2 separate regions of the Homo sapiens genome follow, and region 2 is linked to region 1. Evidence: fine-mapped expression QTL. A gene starts in region 1. The other region holds a variant in brackets. All regions are shown on one strand. Distances are from middle to middle.

Evidence for each region.
Region 2: its variant is fine-mapped to the expression of TARBP2 in pancreas (GTEx, PIP above 0.99).

The regions. Positions count from the first base shown.
Region 1 is chr12:53,497,830-53,506,345 of GRCh38, forward strand. TARBP2 (TARBP2 subunit of RISC loading complex) reads left to right here and starts at 3,454. Exons shown (of 9, transcript NM_134323.2): 1 at 3,454-3,632; 2 at 4,186-4,355; 3 at 5,198-5,300; 4 at 5,884-5,979; 5 at 6,568-6,640; 6 at 6,869-6,986; 7 at 7,306-7,433; 8 at 7,820-8,021; 9 at 8,162-8,516. The coding sequence starts at 3,580. The coding sequence ends at 8,319. It overlaps MAP3K12 (mitogen-activated protein kinase kinase kinase 12), which reads right to left and starts at 1,629. Exons shown (of 14, transcript NM_001193511.2): 1 at 1,598-1,629. RefSeq lists a silencer at 1,746-1,995 and an enhancer at 3,089-3,388.
Region 2 is chr12:53,667,382-53,675,381 of GRCh38, forward strand. It overlaps ATP5MC2 (ATP synthase membrane subunit c locus 2), which reads right to left. Exons shown (of 5, transcript NM_005176.7): 2 at 5,195-5,264; 3 at 2,490-2,567; 4 at 1,767-1,960. The coding sequence starts at 5,233. Among named protein-coding and RNA genes, the nearest start is that of ATP5MC2, 4.7 kb to the right of the region's middle. The variant T/G (reference allele first, on the strand shown) is at 3,117.

The DNA.
Region 1 (8,516 bases):
AGGCAGGGGAGAGGGAGGACTGTGCATTACGAGAGTCCGGGCTGTGAGTGGTAGAACCAAGAGTCCTCTTCCTAGAAAAGCCTGATCCTACCACAGTGTCACCACGAGGGGAAAAGCAATTGGTTTTTAGAAGGGTTCTGCCCTCTTCAGCTATAAGGAAGCCTAGGAAATCCTGAGCCATGTCTAACTTCTTGCCTCCTCTGTCCATAACTGGGATGGATATTTAGCTGGTGTCTCCATGTTGAGAGCTGGGGTTTTCCTAACATTACCCCAGTTGACAATGGGAGTGAGTGGATGAATGATACGCTTGAGGGGACACACTTTTTTTCACCTGTAAGTGTGAGATAGGAGGGAGTGGGGCCCTAAAGCTCAGAGAAACTTCAGTGTCTGGACAGGAAGGCTCAGGGGGCACTTGAGTCCTATCCTTCCTAAATCCTTTCTGTTAGCCTTAGCTTGGTAGGACCCTCTGGCTGAAACTCAGAGCTCCTAGAGCAATGGAGTCCACCTTGAGAACTGCAAGGGAAATGTGTTTAGAGGGATGCACTGACTGTGGCTTGAGACGACTCTGGGTGGGGTGAGGAGACCTCATGTGCACTCCCTTCTGATTGGAGGCCACTCACCTACGCTCCTCTGAAAAAGGCAGCAGATGAGCATCTACAAGGTAGGACTCCTCCCTTAATTCTAAGGGACACCTCACTGTTTCCTCCCACTGTCTACAGAGCCTTGACTCTTCCCTCCTCTCAGTCAAGGCCTTGGTTACCAGCAAGTCTCAACTCTTGTTTATTTTTAAGCCAATGAGTTTGAGGAGTGTTTGTGGGAAAGGGAGGAGGTTTTTGGAGGGCCTGACTGGGGGAGATGGGTTAGGGGAGCCAGAGGAGATGGAGAGAAAGAGGAGGGAGAAACCCACACGTGAATGGGGGAGGGGAGGATGCAACAGCTGGATGGAGGTGAATGCCACAGCTGGAGGTGAATGCCACAGCTGGAGGGGATTAGGAGGATCACAGCTTGAAGGGGAGGGGGACCAACGCCTGGGCATGCAGGAACAGGTGCTCTCTGACTAATCTTCAGGTCCAGCCTGCTGTGTGTGTGTGTGTGTGTGTGTGTGTGTGTGTGTGTGTGTGTGTGTGTGTGTGTGTGTGTGTGTGTGTGTGTGTGTGTGTGTGTGTGTGTGTGTGGAGATGGTGGGTATATCAGTCCTTGCCCTTCCTTTCCTTCCCTAGAGGGGGCCAAAACTCTCCCTCCTCCTTCCCTCTCTCTCTTCCTGAGGATGAGTGGGAGGAGATGTTCTCTTGCCCTCTGTCCTTTAAGTCTGTCCCCCAATCATCCTCCACCCCACCCCAATACGGTCCTTTCCAGCTCTGGAGGCCCTTCGTCTCCAAGCTGGGCCGCGGCATCCCTCCGCTCCATTCCCTTCCTTCCCAGCCCCACAGGCGTCGGGTCCAGGTCCCCAGTTCCTCCATCCCCACAGCCTCAGCATCCCCACGCCATCACCCCGCACCAGGCCACATCTGCATCCCGACCCTCCCTCCACGCCCGGATCCCAGGACCCAGACCCATCCCTGCCCCCCACCCCCCCACAACTCGGCCAGGCTCTCACCTCGGGGGCTCCGCGGCCGCAGCACAAAAGGCGGCGCTGCTGCAGCTCCGCTCCGGATGCTGCTCCCGCCTCCTCCTCCTTCTCCTCCTCCTTCCCTCCTCCCCCCGCTGCCCTCCACCGGACCCGGGGCGCTGTCACAGGCGATGCTCGTGCGGTGTCCGGATGCACGGGTGTCAGCTTCAGCTTTCTGCCCCCACCCCCCGACCCCTAGCCCCGTCCCTGCTCGGCTTGAACTCCCGCTCCTTCCAGGGCCCCCGCCCCTGGCCCCCCGGGACGGACACGCCCTGAGCGGGGGATGCTGCGATGGAGCCGCCGGCCTCTTAAAGGAGCCCGCTGCTGCCATCCGGCGCGCTCCAGGCTCGTACCTGGCCCGCCTGGGCCCCGCGCCTCCCTGCTGGCGGTGTCCTATGGAGGTCCCACCTCAGGCCTCAGGCTGATTCCACAGGAACCCCCTATGACCCGTCTTATAGACTCCTTTCTACATCGGAGAGAGCAGCCCCTCAGTTGGGATCCCTAGCGCTCTGGCATTGCTCCCCCTATCATACCGATCTTGCCAGCTCTCCTTCCCTTGATTGTCACCACTCACTCCAATTTCACCCACTTGGAATTCACTCGGCTCTAGGCCCCATCCTCCTCCAGTGTTCCTGGATGACCCCTCATTATCATTTCAAGATTCCTCTGGACCTCCAACCCCGGCTCAGAGTAAGACATCTTTCTTGACCCCTTCTCAGAACACTCATTAGAACCTTTTTTTTTTTTAATGTGGTCTCTCCCTTTCTCTCTCCAAGGTCACAAGATTTCCCTCAGCCCAGTGGTTGTGCAACTTTGGGGGAGGAGGCAATGGGGCTCTAGGACTAAACAATGCGCGTCTGCTCAACACCCAGATCAGTTGATTAATCTTAGGCGGCCAAAATTCACTTTTGCTCTCTTCAGCTGAGAGACCCAAGACTCATGGAAGAGGGAACAAGACCACCAAGGTGCCTAGTCCTTCTAATCCTGTCGTCCCACATTACAGCCTGATTATCAGGCCCCAGAGGTTTCCTCGCCAGTTAAAGAGAGGTTCACTAGAGCGGTTCTAAAAAGGTTTCACAAAAGAAGCAACACCTGAAGGGAGGTGAAGGACGACCTAGGAAAAGGAAGCAAGTTCTGTGTCACGGAGGCCCAAGGGCAAGGGGCTTAGGCTGTGGGTTGAGGGGACTGTCTGAGACGGACTTAAACCTGCACCAGCTCCAGAGCCCTGCGGAAACAGAGATCGGTCCCCTCCGGCGTCTAGGTAAGGCCCACCCTCCCAGACCGCAAAGAGCCAGGATCCGACGGCAGCCTCTCCGGACCAATCACAACCTTCCTTCATCAAGGAGGCGGGGTCGGGGGGGGCTGACTTTTCCTTGTCTCCGCCCCTTTAGTCGAAGTAACCAATCTCAGTGCACCTAGGGGAAGTAATCGCAATGGGAGTAACCAATGACGCCATGAAGCTTCTCGTGCGTGCTTGACCCTGCCTCTCCAGCTGCGACACAGATGGCGCGCGGGCTCTTGGGTTCTGTAGTTTTCTCGCGATCCAAAAGGCTCCGTGCCCAAGTGAGTCCTTACCGCCTCCCTACCCAGCGGCTTCCCCTCCGCTAGTACGCATGTCCACAGCTTCACGGACCGGGAGAGAGGGGGCGCGGAAGGAAGGAGGCGGGACGGTATTACAAACAAAAAAATACGGCCTTCTCGAGAAGCGACGGCGGAGGGCCCGCTCCTCCCAGAAGGCGGTGCAGCCTGCCCGGGCGAGCCACGCACGCAGAGGGTTGTGGGGCGGATAGCTCCCCTCCAGATGGAGGCTCACGAAGTAGGGTGGGCGGGGGACTCCATATCCCAGCGTGCCCCGCGGCGGGCCCTACCGGCCGCGACTCCGGGCTTGGCCCCGGCCCTAGCTCGTCGGCTGTGTATTGGGGCGCGTGGAGGCTGCAGTCACGGTGGCGCCCGCGGGGACGGAGGAGGGAATGAGTGAAGAGGAGCAAGGCTCCGGCACTACCACGGGCTGCGGGCTGCCTAGGTGAGCCGTCTCGTACCGATTCCTTCAGGGCGAAAAGCGTGGGGCCGTGCGGAGGGAGTAGCGGCGCGGCCCCAGCATGCACCTGGCCTGAGGGTTGTTCCCGGCAAGCACTGGGGCAGTGGGCAGTGGTTCCCGGCGTGCACCGGGGCAGTGGCTGCTGCCTCCAGCTCTAAATAGTTTGGGGTTGGCCCGGTTCCCAGACTGCACTGGAACACTGGGCTTTATGCCCCCACATTCAGTGCATTTGGTGGGTACTGGGTTCCTGGCTTGCACTGTGTCAGGGGGTATGCACTTTCAACCTGCATTGGGGCACAGGATCGTGCCCACCTTAACTGAGGCAGGAGCAATGCATTCTTCCCCCCTTGCTTTGGGGTAGTGGGCCCTACTTTTCCAGCCTGCACCTCCACTTGGAACCCAGCCAATGGATGCTAGACTGTCTGGGGTTCCTTGGACCCTATGTCCCCCATAATGTGCCTAGGTCTGGTATGGAAGTGCTTGGCTAGGTGGGTGCAGAGAGGGGAGGTGTGATGTGGGTCTGTGCCCCTTCCCCCAGTATAGAGCAAATGCTGGCCGCCAACCCAGGCAAGACCCCGATCAGCCTTCTGCAGGAGTATGGGACCAGAATAGGGAAGACGCCTGTGTACGACCTTCTCAAAGCCGAGGGCCAAGCCCACCAGCCTAATTTCACCTTCCGGGTCACCGTTGGCGACACCAGCTGCACTGGTGAGGAAGGCTTGGGCAGCCTGGCTGGGGTGTGCATTTGCAGGTCCCCATGGCTTTGTTTCTTGGAGTCTCTCTCTTCACAGTCCTTTTCTCCAAGGCCAGTGAGGGAAGGAGAGATTTCAGGGGAAAAGCTACTGACTGGATTGGGAGAACAGGGCTGTAAGAAGGTGGGTAGGACGTGGGAGAGTTAGAGGAGCGAGCAGGACTCCCACAGTGATCTGGCAGATCCCCATCACCCTAGAGGAAAAGTAAGAGAAGATAACTGAAATCCCAGTGGAGTATTTGGGGGAGTGAGTGCCTGGCGTGCTGGGCTCTGTTCCCGGTGCTTAACCAAATTCCCGTTTAATTTTAAACCTCAGTCTAACCAATGATTGTAGGTGGTAGTATCCGCCCCCCCGACTCCTCCCCCCGCCCGCCCATGTTGAATATGAGGAAACTGAGTGTTTGAGATAGTAAATGGCTGGTGCATGGTCACATGCCTAGTATGTGGCAGAGTGGGGCTTTTACTCCAGAGCCTACCCTCTCTTATTCCAGCTCTCTGTATTTATTGAGGGAAAAGAAAGTGCTTTGCAAAGGAAATTAAAGCATTTGCGCTCAGAAGTCCACCCAAGGCGTTTGAGCTCAGAAGTCCTGCTTGGCATGGCTTAATTCTGGAAGCTAACGGAAAGATAAGGGCTCTTCCTTCCAGCAATTAGTGAAACACTTCCAGTCTTCAGCAGGGGGAGGTTGGTCAGAAGGGGCTTGATTGATTCCCTCTGGCTACGAGGAGAGAGGCTGTGGGATGCTGGTTTCTTTCCCGTCCTTTCAGTGACCTCCAGTATTGCCCATGCCCCCTCTCTCAGGTCAGGGCCCCAGCAAGAAGGCAGCCAAGCACAAGGCAGCTGAGGTGGCCCTCAAACACCTCAAAGGGGGGAGCATGCTGGAGCCGGCCCTGGAGGACAGCAGGTGAGGGAGGAACCGAGGCATCCCAGAAGCCCTTCAAGGAACCCAGGCCCTGCACCACCCACTCTGCCCCGAGGCCTGGCCAGGTGACACTTAGCCACCCTGACCTGGCCTCTTCCTGAGAGTCCCTCTGGACCTGAACAGGGTTTTCCAGGGCTTCTGCTGCTATGAAGAATTCTTGGGGTGGAGGGGTTGGTTAGCCCCATAGAGGGGTTGTGGCAGTAGGTTGGGGCCTGGGTTAGGGAGGGAGAGGGGTAGAGGCTTGAGGCTAAAGGGAGTTACTCCCCAACATACCTCCTTGTTCTAGCAAGATGTCCTTCCTTCACGCGCAGGTTGGAGTTTGTTGCTCCTCTGGTTCTTGGGTACAAAGATACCCTCTTCTCTGAGACTCTCTTTTCTCAGTCTTTTCGCCGGTGTTTGGCAGCAAAGGATCCGAGGAGGAAGCTGTTGGTTGAGCCTCCCTGATTCTTTGGCTCAATTTGGAAGTTCTCTTAGGGGATTGGGAGGTCAGGAGGACGTGGGTCCCCCACCCCTCTCTTCCCCCTATACATGGGTGTGAATCAAAGGCCCCCTTCCCCTCGGGAAGTTCTTTTTCTCCCCTAGACTCTTCACTGCCTGAGGACATTCCGGTTTTTACTGCTGCAGCAGCTGCTACCCCAGTTCCATCTGTAGTCCTAACCAGGTATCTGTGTCCCCTGACTGCCTGAGGTGGGTGGAGGAAGGGGTTCTGGTTTTTGGTCCCTCAGTCCTTGGACCCAAGCTGGTCAGGCATGAGGAAGTCTGAGAATAAACAGAATGGAATAGTTGGGAACCAGAACTTGAAGAAATCACAGCAGCTGGTAAGCTCTTGGGACAAGAGGTCATTTGTGATTTTCAGACAGCCTTATGAATGATGTCCGACCATGTTTAAGGGTCTTGCAGGCCCCATTTTCTTCTGGGTTGACCACATGTCAGTTCTGTGTTTGAGGCCCATCAGGCACTTCTGGGACTGGAAATACAGCTCTTCTCCCACTGTCCTGGCTTAGATGATACCCAAGTGTTCCAGAATGGAAATGGGCTGGGGCCTGGAGAAGGCCTCCCTTGAGTGGGAGGGGGAAGGAAGCCGGCTAGAGCAGGAGGAGCAGGCTAGATGTGTGGACAGACAGCTCCCCACCCGGTGGAATCGGGAGATGGTAGTCAGGAATCTAAAGTAGTGGTTAGGTTTGGAGCTCATGGGCAGGCTCAGATGGAACCCTTCACCTCAACTTTGGCCCTGTGCCTTTTCCTTCAGGAGCCCCCCCATGGAACTGCAGCCCCCTGTCTCCCCTCAGCAGTCTGAGTGCAACCCCGTTGGTGCTCTGCAGGTGTGTCCCATCCTCATTTCCCATGCATGCCTGTCTTCCCTTGAGCCAGGGGCCATGAGGGAAGGCTATGTGTGTTTGGGGGTGGGGGCGGTTCCTTGTACTGAGGCCCTTTCCACCCCCCTCTCTCCTTCCTCTCACCTAGAGTCTGAGGCTCCTGCGTGGGGACCAGCGTGGGTGTGAGAAGCCTTTTTTCACTCAGCCTCATGCACCCTGTGTCTCCCTTCCAAGGAGCTGGTGGTGCAGAAAGGCTGGCGGTTGCCGGAGTACACAGTGACCCAGGAGTCTGGGCCAGCCCACCGCAAAGAATTCACCATGACCTGTCGAGTGGAGCGTTTCATTGAGATTGGTAACTGGGCAAGAAGGGGTTCTCACAACTCCTCTCCCGCAGCACTCTGGCCCCAGCCACAAAGCAGCTCCTGGCCTCACTCTGCTACACCCCCTGCTCTCTTAGCTTCACAGTCCCTAGCTCAGCCCCTTCCTTTTAGCTTCTTGGCACCCTATTTGTCCCCTTCTCTCTGGCTGACCAGGTTCTCACGTGCATGGGCAGGTCTTGAGTTCCCCTTTCCAGTTGACATTCTGGGGGGACCCTCAATCCAAGTATGACCTGGGTGGAAGCACTGGGTCTGTGGGGAATCATAACCCAGCAGCCCTCTCTCCACATGCAGGGAGTGGCACTTCCAAAAAATTGGCAAAGCGGAATGCGGCGGCCAAAATGCTGCTTCGAGTGCACACGGTGCCTCTGGATGCCCGGGATGGCAATGAGGTGGAGCCTGATGATGACCACTTCTCCATTGTGAGTGGCTCATGTGGGCCGGGCACCGTGGCCCATCCTCCATGCCAGGGCAGGGCTCCAGGGACTTGGGTCTGTGACTCAGCAGTGAGCCTCTCTGGGCCCTAGGTCTGCTTCTGCCACAGTTTTCCTACCAGACCCAGGGTTCCTGGGGCCGACTCAGCCTTGACTGTAGGCCCGCTCTGTAGCTCTGTTACTGGGGTGAGGAGGGATCCCTGGCCATCTGGCCCAGGGCCTGGTAGTTAGAAGGGGCCACCCAGGGATTGACTGGGGGGAGGCAAGCTGGAGGAAGCATTCTTTGTGCTTTGTTCTCCTTTGACGTTGAATGTCTCAATGCCTGGGTCCCACAGTCTCTCGCTTCATCTTTCTCACTGTTCCCATCTTGACAGGGTGTGGGCTCCCGCCTGGATGGTCTTCGAAACCGGGGCCCAGGTTGCACCTGGGATTCTCTACGAAATTCAGTAGGAGAGAAGATCCTGTCCCTCCGCAGTTGCTCCCTGGGCTCCCTGGGTGCCCTGGGCCCTGCCTGCTGCCGTGTCCTCAGTGAGCTCTCTGAGGAGCAGGCCTTTCACGTCAGCTACCTGGATATTGGTATGGCTAGCTGGGGAGCGAGCCAGGGGATGGTGGGGGCTGGACCGGAGCAAGTAGAAGGGGGTGATGATAACGTGAACGCACCCCTCCCCAGGGCTACCTCCCCCAACATTGCCTCCCTCCTCTCTCTTGCTCTCCAGAGGAGCTGAGCCTGAGTGGACTCTGCCAGTGCCTGGTGGAACTGTCCACCCAGCCGGCCACTGTGTGTCATGGCTCTGCAACCACCAGGGAGGCAGCCCGTGGTGAGGCTGCCCGCCGTGCCCTGCAGTACCTCAAGATCATGGCAGGCAGCAAGTGAAGCCCCAGCTGGACTCATGGATGTGCACCCTTTGCTCCCTGCTCTTTCTGCCTCTGGGCTCATGTATCTGCGCAGCTCTGGTACCCTCTGTGGGTGCCATCTCTACCTCTGACACAGACTGCCTGCCTTGAAGCTGAGAAGGCACAGGGCAAGGAGCCAAGGACCACAGAGCCTCAGCCAGCCCAGGATCCGTCCTC
Region 2 (8,000 bases), 170 kb after region 1:
GAACAGGGAAGGTAAACTTTTTCTGTAAAGGGCCACATTGTAAATAATTTTAGGTTTTGTGGGCCGCATATAGTCTCTTTTGCTTTAAAACAAAAATGAAGCCTTTTAAAAATGCGAAACTATTTTTTTTTTTGAGATGGAGTTTCACTCTTTTGCCCAGGCTGGAGTGCAGTGGCGTGATCTCTACTCACTGCAACCTCCGCCTTCAGGGTTCAAGTGATTTTCCTGCCTCAGCCTCCTGAGTAGCTGGGATTACAGGCATCTGCCACCATGCCTGGCTAATTTCTGTATTTTTAGTAGAGAAGGGGTTTCACCATGTTGGCCAGGCTAGTCTCGAACTCCTGACCTCGTGATCCGCCCGCCTCGGCCTCCCAAAGTGCTGGGATTATAGGCGTAAGGCACCACACCCGGCCATAAAATTATTTTTAGCTCAATCATACAAAACCTGGCTATGGCCCAGATTTGGCCCTTAGGCCTTAGTTTGCCAACACATGCTCTAGACCAAAGCTGTTCATGAAACTTTCTTCAATGACACAATGATATAAACATTCTAATACATACATACATACACACACATATATATATATATATATATATATATATATATATATATAAATTTTTTTTTTTTTGATGGTCTCACTCTGTTGCCCAGACTGGAATGCAGTGGCACCATCTTGGCTCACTGTAACCTCTGTCTCCCGGGTTCAAGCAATTCTCCTGTCTCATCCTCCCGAGTAGCTGGGACTACAGGCGCCCACCACAACGCCTGGCTAATTTTTGTATTTTTAGCAGAGACAGGGTTTCACCATATTGACCAGGCTGGTCTCAAACTCCTGACGTCAGGTGATCCACTCGCCTTGACCTCCCAAAGTGCAGGATTACAGGCATGAACCACCTCGCCCAGCCTATATTTGTTTTTTTCTTTTTTTTTTTTCCCCAAAGTCTCACTCTGTCACCTAGGCTGGAGTACAGTGGCATGATCTCGGCTCACAGCTCACTGCAACCTCCACCTCCCGGGTTCAAGCGATTCTTCTGCCTCAGCCTCCTGAATAGCTGGGATTATAGGTGCACGCCCCCCTTACCCAGGTAATTTTTGTATTTTTAGTAGAGATGGGGTTTCGCCATGTTGGCCAGGCTGGTCTCGAACTCCTGACCTCAAGCGATTCACCTGCCCTGGCCTCCCAAAGTGCTGGGATTAGTGAGCCACTGTGCCCAGCCAAACATTCTATATTTGCATTGTTGAATATGGTAGCCTCTAGCCACATCTGGCTACTGAGCACTCGAAATATGGTTAGCGTGACTGAAGAACTGAAAACTGAAACTATGTATTTTTAATTAATTAAAACTAAAATTCAGGTCAAGCGCGGGGGCTCATGCCTGTAATCCTGGCAGTTAGGGAGGCCGAGGCAGGTGGATCACTTGAGGTCAGGAGTTTGAGACCAGCCTGGCCAACATGGCGAAACCCCATCTCTACTAAAACCACAAAAATTAGGTGGGCGTCATTGTGTGTGCCTGTAATCCCAGCTACTTGGGAGGCTGAGGCACAAGAATCGCTTGAACCCAGAGGTAGAGGTGACAGTGAGCTGAGATTGCGCCACTGCACTCCAGCCTGGGAAACAGAGCGTTACTGTCTCAAAACAAACAAACAAACAAACAACATGTAGCTAGTGGCTACAGTGTGGGATAGTATAGTTCTAGACCCCCAAATATTTTCTGACCTTTGGAAAGCATATCAGATAACCAGTGGAGGGTCCAACTTATCTTACCTGGCATAACCAATGATGAGGCTCCCAAACACAGTTCCAATCCCAGCCCCAGAACCAGCCACCCCAACTGTGGCAGCCCCAGCTCCAATGAACTTGGCTGCTGTGTCGATGTCCCTTGAAATGGCGCTGGTTTGGAAGCTGCGGCTAGAGACAAGTGAGGTAAGGGGACATGAGACTGCCAAGCTGCTGAGGCTCTGTGAAAAAGAGGCAGGTAGAAGGTAAAGTTTTTTGCTTTGGTAACTTTTGTACCATTTAAAACCCTTTAAGCTGCCAAATCCCATTGTTTCTCCCCCAAACAGAAAATTGTTTAACGCCCTAAAATGCTGGCAAGTAGAACCTTTTAACGTAGGATGTAGACTTCAAATGCCTTTAAGATTCAGGTGTGGTCAAGAAGTGTAAGACTGAGGCCCTAGTCTATTCTTGCTGCCCCAAGGAGATCATCTTCCTAGGACTAAATGCTTCCAACTGAAGTCAGTAGACTAGGCCAAGTAATACCAGTTAGCAGCAGTGCACAGGGGCATGTGCTGCCAGTGGCAAAAGCTGGAGCACTATAGCATACAGTGTATTAAGTGTCCTCCATCTCCACCTAAAGCCCATGGCCTTGGCCATTCATGAATTTTAGCCTGTGATGACTGTCCTCAGCATTCTACCTCCTGGTTCTGGCAGGTAACCCTCCCCACCCATCACCCCCAAAACCACAGTCCCAACTCCACTGTAAGGTACCTCATCTGTCAGTATCTCCGGTCGTTTCAGCACCACTGCAGATAGCGGACGGCTCAGCAGCTGTGAGGTGCTCTTGACCTAGCAGGAATGACATACAGGGGCAGGAAGGTCAAGGAAGACTGGAGAGGAGTTTCAGAACTATGCCACGTTGTTACATCATCAGACAAGATTTTCTTTCCTCTCATGGCCTTTCCATCTTCACATGTACGTTAGAGTTTTGGATCATTCTTCCTTTTAGCAAAGTCTAAATTAAAGAACCACACCATTTCTCTTGCTTCTCAGACTTTGCTTTAAGGAAAGAAAGTCTACTTCCTTTGGGCCATAAGGGAGCATCCAACCTTGCTATATCCTTTTATAGCTCTTGAGAACAAGAAGAAATCTAAGCCTCAGAAGCATTTGCCTCACTCAACAAGGGAAATATATACAGATGCTCCTCAACTTACCATAGGGTTATGTGCCAATAAATCCATCATACTTTGAAAAACCATTTAATACTGCTAACCTACCAAACACCATAGTCTGGCCTTCAATGTGCTCAAAAAGCTTACACTAGCTTACATTAGCTTACAGTTAGGTGAAATCACCTAGCAACACAGTACACCGTAGAGTACTGGTTGTTTACCCCTG[T/G]GATTGGGCAGGTGACTGGGAGCTGTGGGTTCCTGCTGAGTATTGCAACAGAGTATTGTACCACACATTGCTAGCTTGGGAAAAGATAAAGATTCCTAATTCGAAGTATGGTTTCTTTCTTTCTTTCTTTTTTTTTTTTGAGACGGAGTCTTGCTGTATCGCCAGGCTGGAATGCAGTGTCGTGATCTCGGCTCGGCTCACTACAACCTCCACCTCCCAGGTTCAAGCAATTCTCCTGCCTCAGCCTCCCAAGTAGCTGGGACTACAGGCGCCGGCAACCACGCCCAGCTAATTTTTGTATTTTTAGTAGAGACAGGTTTTCACCATATTGGCCAGGCTGGTTTTGAATTCCTGACCTCAGGTGATCCACCCACCTCGGCTTCCCAAGGTGCTGGGATTACAGGCATGAGCCACCACGCCCAGCCCGAAGTATGGTTTCTAATGAATGCATATCATTTTTGCATCATCATAAAGTTAAAAAAAAAAAATCTTAATCTAAAGTTGGGGGCCTTCTGTATGGGTAATGGTCAGCCCACAAGAAAGAAGCCAGTAACTTTCCCTGAACACATCCTTTTGGAAAATAGGAACAAAGATTCATGCTCAAAACTCACCTCCTTCTGGTAGCCTTTTCTGACTAACCCCAAGCCAGTGACACCAAAACAGACACATGGTGATTCATAGCCAGGGCTTTAGGCATCAGATAAAGTGAGATTCAAATCTTAATTCTATTATCAGCAGTGTATTCTCAGGATAAGTCACTTAAACCTTTCTAAGCCTGTATTCTCATTTATGAAATCAAAATATCATCTCTTGGGGTTGATTTGAAGAGTAAATGAGATTATGTATACCAATTAGTAAACTCAGTGAGTGCTAAGGCACATGGTAAATGCTCAATAAATGGTACTCCTTTTTATTTGTGAATGAACCAACCGCCTCCTCTAGCTACTATTTCAAAAATTTCTTCCATACTGTTGTTTCTGAGTCAAATACTTTTCCAATGTGTATTTATGTAAATTTTAGCTTCCTATCCAAATTTAAGTCCCAGAATGAACTCCTTAGCTATGGCTAACTCAGGACAAGATCCTACACACAGTGCATACTCAGTCCAAGTTATGTAATCTACTTATATTTACCACTCTGGATGGCCAGCTTACACGACATATAGTTTCAGGAGTAGGAATAACTTGATCTTGGTCTAGATTCTCATCTCTATTCTTCTCCTAAGATGGCTGGGTAAGAATTAACTGGGCACAGCCAGGCACGGTGGCTCATGCCTATAATATCAGCAATTTAGGAGGCCGAGGACGGCGGATCACCTGAGGTCAGGAGTTCAAGACCAGCCTGACCAACATGGAGAAACCCTGTCTCTACTCGGATCACGAGGTCAGGAGTTTGAGACCAGCCCGGCCAACATGGTGTAACCCCATCTCTACTAAAAATACAAAAATTAGCTGGGTATGGTGGCAGGTGCCTGTAACCCCAGCTACTTGGGAGTCTGAGGCAGGTGAACTGCTTGAACCCGGGAGGCGGAGGTTGTGGTGGATCGCGCCATTGCAGCCTGGGCAACAAGAGCGAAACTCTGTCTCAAAAAAAAAAAAAAAAAAAAAATTAACTGGCCGCCAAGGGATATGGGGCAGGAGAGTATCTAGCAAGCATTCACTCTATCCTGTTACGCAATCATAGCAGAGGGCCTTCCCTCCCCAAGAATCTTTCTTACTTATTTACTTATTTATTTATTTTTTGAGACAGAGTCTTGCTCTGACGCCCAGGCTGGAGTGCAGTGGTGCGATCTTGGCTCACTGCAACCTCTACCTCCTGGGTTCAAGCTATTCTGTTGCCTCAGCCTCCTGAGTAGCTGGGATTACAGGCGCCCGCCACCATGCCCAACTGGTTTTCGTTTTTTTAGTAGAGATGGGGTTTCGCCATGTTGGCCAGGCTGGTTTTGAACTCCTGGCCTCAAGTGATCTGCCCGCCTGGACCTCCTCTCCCCCAGCCTTGCTGTGAAGAACAAGGTCTGATGGAAAGAGAGAGACAAGATGTCTCTCCTTTAAAACTCTCCCAGAAAAGCAGGTACTCACCAAGGAGGGAGTGGAGACAAACTTGGAGCAGGCGAACATTTTCAGGGGGTGAGGAGCTGTGGCAGGAGAGCTGGAATTACAGAAGCAGTATTGTAAACGCTCCTTATTCACTAAACTATATCCTTATTAGCAGAAAAGGGGCCCTAGAAAGCTTAACTGGCCCAGAAAACAGTGACTGACCTTAAGTCATTGGCAGAAATAGAATTAAAACCCTGAAGTCATGACTTCTTCCAGAAACCCCACACAGCTCCCAAGATTTCCTTATAATGAAGTGACTTCCCCTGGTCTGAACAAGTGAACACTTGGGTTCAGGTAAGACCTGTTACCCATTTCCATAGCCTCATGATTTGCAGTTGCCACAGGAATTTTCCCAGAGTGTCTTTTGCCTAAGTTTTCCTTAGTTTTTATTCAAAAGGAACGCTTCTCAAGACTTCATCATCTGGACCTTTAAAAGTTGCCGTTTAGGCTGGGCACGTGGTTCACACCTGTAATCCCAGCACTTTGGGAGGCCGAGGCGGGCGGATCACGAGGTCAGGAGTTCGAGACCAGCCTGACCAACATGGTGAAACCCCACCTCTACTAAAAATACAAAAATTAGCCAGGTGTGGTAGCACGCGCCTGTAATCCCAGCTACTCAGGAGGCTGAGGCAGGAGAATTGCTTGAACCCAGGAGGCGGAGGTTGCAGTGAGACGAGACCACGCCACTGCACTCCAGCCTGGGTGACAGAGCGAGACCCCATCTCAAAACAAACAAACAAACAAACAAACAAACAAAAAGTTGCCCTTTAGAGTCTTTGTAGTTTTGGGAGATATTTGTTGAAGGCCAAGACACTGGAAGGTCTCCAACAATCTCTTTGCTGATCCCTGGAAGTATCTGATTCCTGAAAATACTTCAATTTCCTGTATTAATAAGATGAGGAAGATCAAGGAGGAACTCTGTTATTAGTCTATCCAAAAGGTATTAGTGGCTGGGCGCAGTGGCTCACGCCTGTAATCCTAGCACTTTAGGAGGCTGAGGCGGGTAGATCACGAGGTCAGGAGTTCGAGACCAGGCTGACCAACATGGAGAAACCCCGTCTCTACTGAAAATACAAAATTAGTCGGGCATGGTGGTGCATGCCTGTAATCCCAGCTACTCAGGAGGCTGAGGCAGGAGAATTGCTTGAATCCAGGAGGCAGAGGCTACGGTGAGCCAAGATTGCGCCATTGTACTCCAGCCTGGGCAACAAGAGGGAAACTGTCTCAAAAAAAAAAAAAAAAGTATTAAATTGTGTCTCCCCAAGATCTAAAGAAGATCTGACACCCTATAGGTATCTAAGTTGGTAGAAGTGAACTTACCTCAAACAGAAGGTGAGTTAAAAACCTAAAGGCAGGGTTTCTCCAAGTGAAGTGAGAAGCCCATCTGAACTAGAATTATCTGGGTGGTGTACGTATTAAAAAATGCATATTCTTGGGCGCAACTTGGACCTTCCTGGTCAAGATCTCTGGGGGAGCTAGGTTCAGTGGCTCATTCCTGTAATCCCAACACTGAGAAGCTGGGGCGGAAAGATAACTTGAAGCCAGGAGTTTGAGACCAGCCTGGGCAAACATCAAGACCTCATCTCTACAAAACATAAAATTAGCCAGGTGAGGTGGAAGTGCACCTGTAGTCCCAGCTACTCCAGAAGCTGAGGCAGGAGGACTGCTTGAACCCAGGAGCTGGAGGCTTCAGTGAGCTATGATCACGCCAGTTGTCCAGTATGGGCAACAACGTGAAACCCTGTCTATAAACAAACAAAAAAGATCTCTGGGAATAAGGCTCAAGTGCCCTGTATTTCAAACAAGTTTCCCAGATGATTATTAGGTATACTTAACGCAAGAGCGTGACCCTAAACCCAGTCTTGAAACTGTGGTAGTGGTAGAGGATAGACTTGAACTTGGATCTTTTAAGTTACATGCTTTCTAATATGTCACAGGCTGAAATACTCAGTGAATGCTTAGGGCTATTAAATACCACTTCATTAAATGAACTGAACTCAGATTGTCCCAGGTTAAAACACTTCTGAATCCAACATCTTAATTGCTCTTAATTTATTTTTTGCCCAGGCTATTGTGGAACTCCTGGCATCAAAAGATCTTCCCACCTTGGCCTCCCAGTGTTGGGATTACAGGTGTGAGCCACCACACCCAGCCTTAATTACTTTTAAGTTAATGGATGTCTTCAACTCTTGTCCTATCTAGAACTCTGATTTTTGCCTATATGTAACTCTAACCCAATTTTGCTGCCGTACTATTCAGGTTTTCTTGGGTCAAAATCCAATAGTTCTTTAAGGCTTTTAGAAAAAGAAGGGGTGGTTCTTTTCTAAGGGAATTATACCTTATTATCTTCTTTGTAAAATGCAGCTCTTAGGGGGATTAAGTATGTTCATTTACAAATTAACATACATAAAGAGTTTAATGTGGTGCTGGCATATAATAAACCCACAACAAGGGGTGGCAATTAAGTGATCCCACCATTGGCTATCTAACCATGGCAACTCTGCAATTGTTAGCCTACAACTTGGGCAAAGGCACTATCCAGAATCAGGACTCCAAAATCATCACGGGCTTTTTCCTCAGTGTAGATGAGTCACAGGGGTAGTAACTTAACTATTCCTTTCCTTAAACCTTCTTTTCCTTGTAACAGCAGAATCTGGGGAGGTTAATTAATCCTTCACAGGAAAGCTGGCAGGCAGGGTCTCATGCTGGCCCCACTAGCTTGGCCTTACCCCACCTTTCTGGGCCTGCTGCCTCAACAGAAACCCTCATCTCTAGCCCACCATTTGTG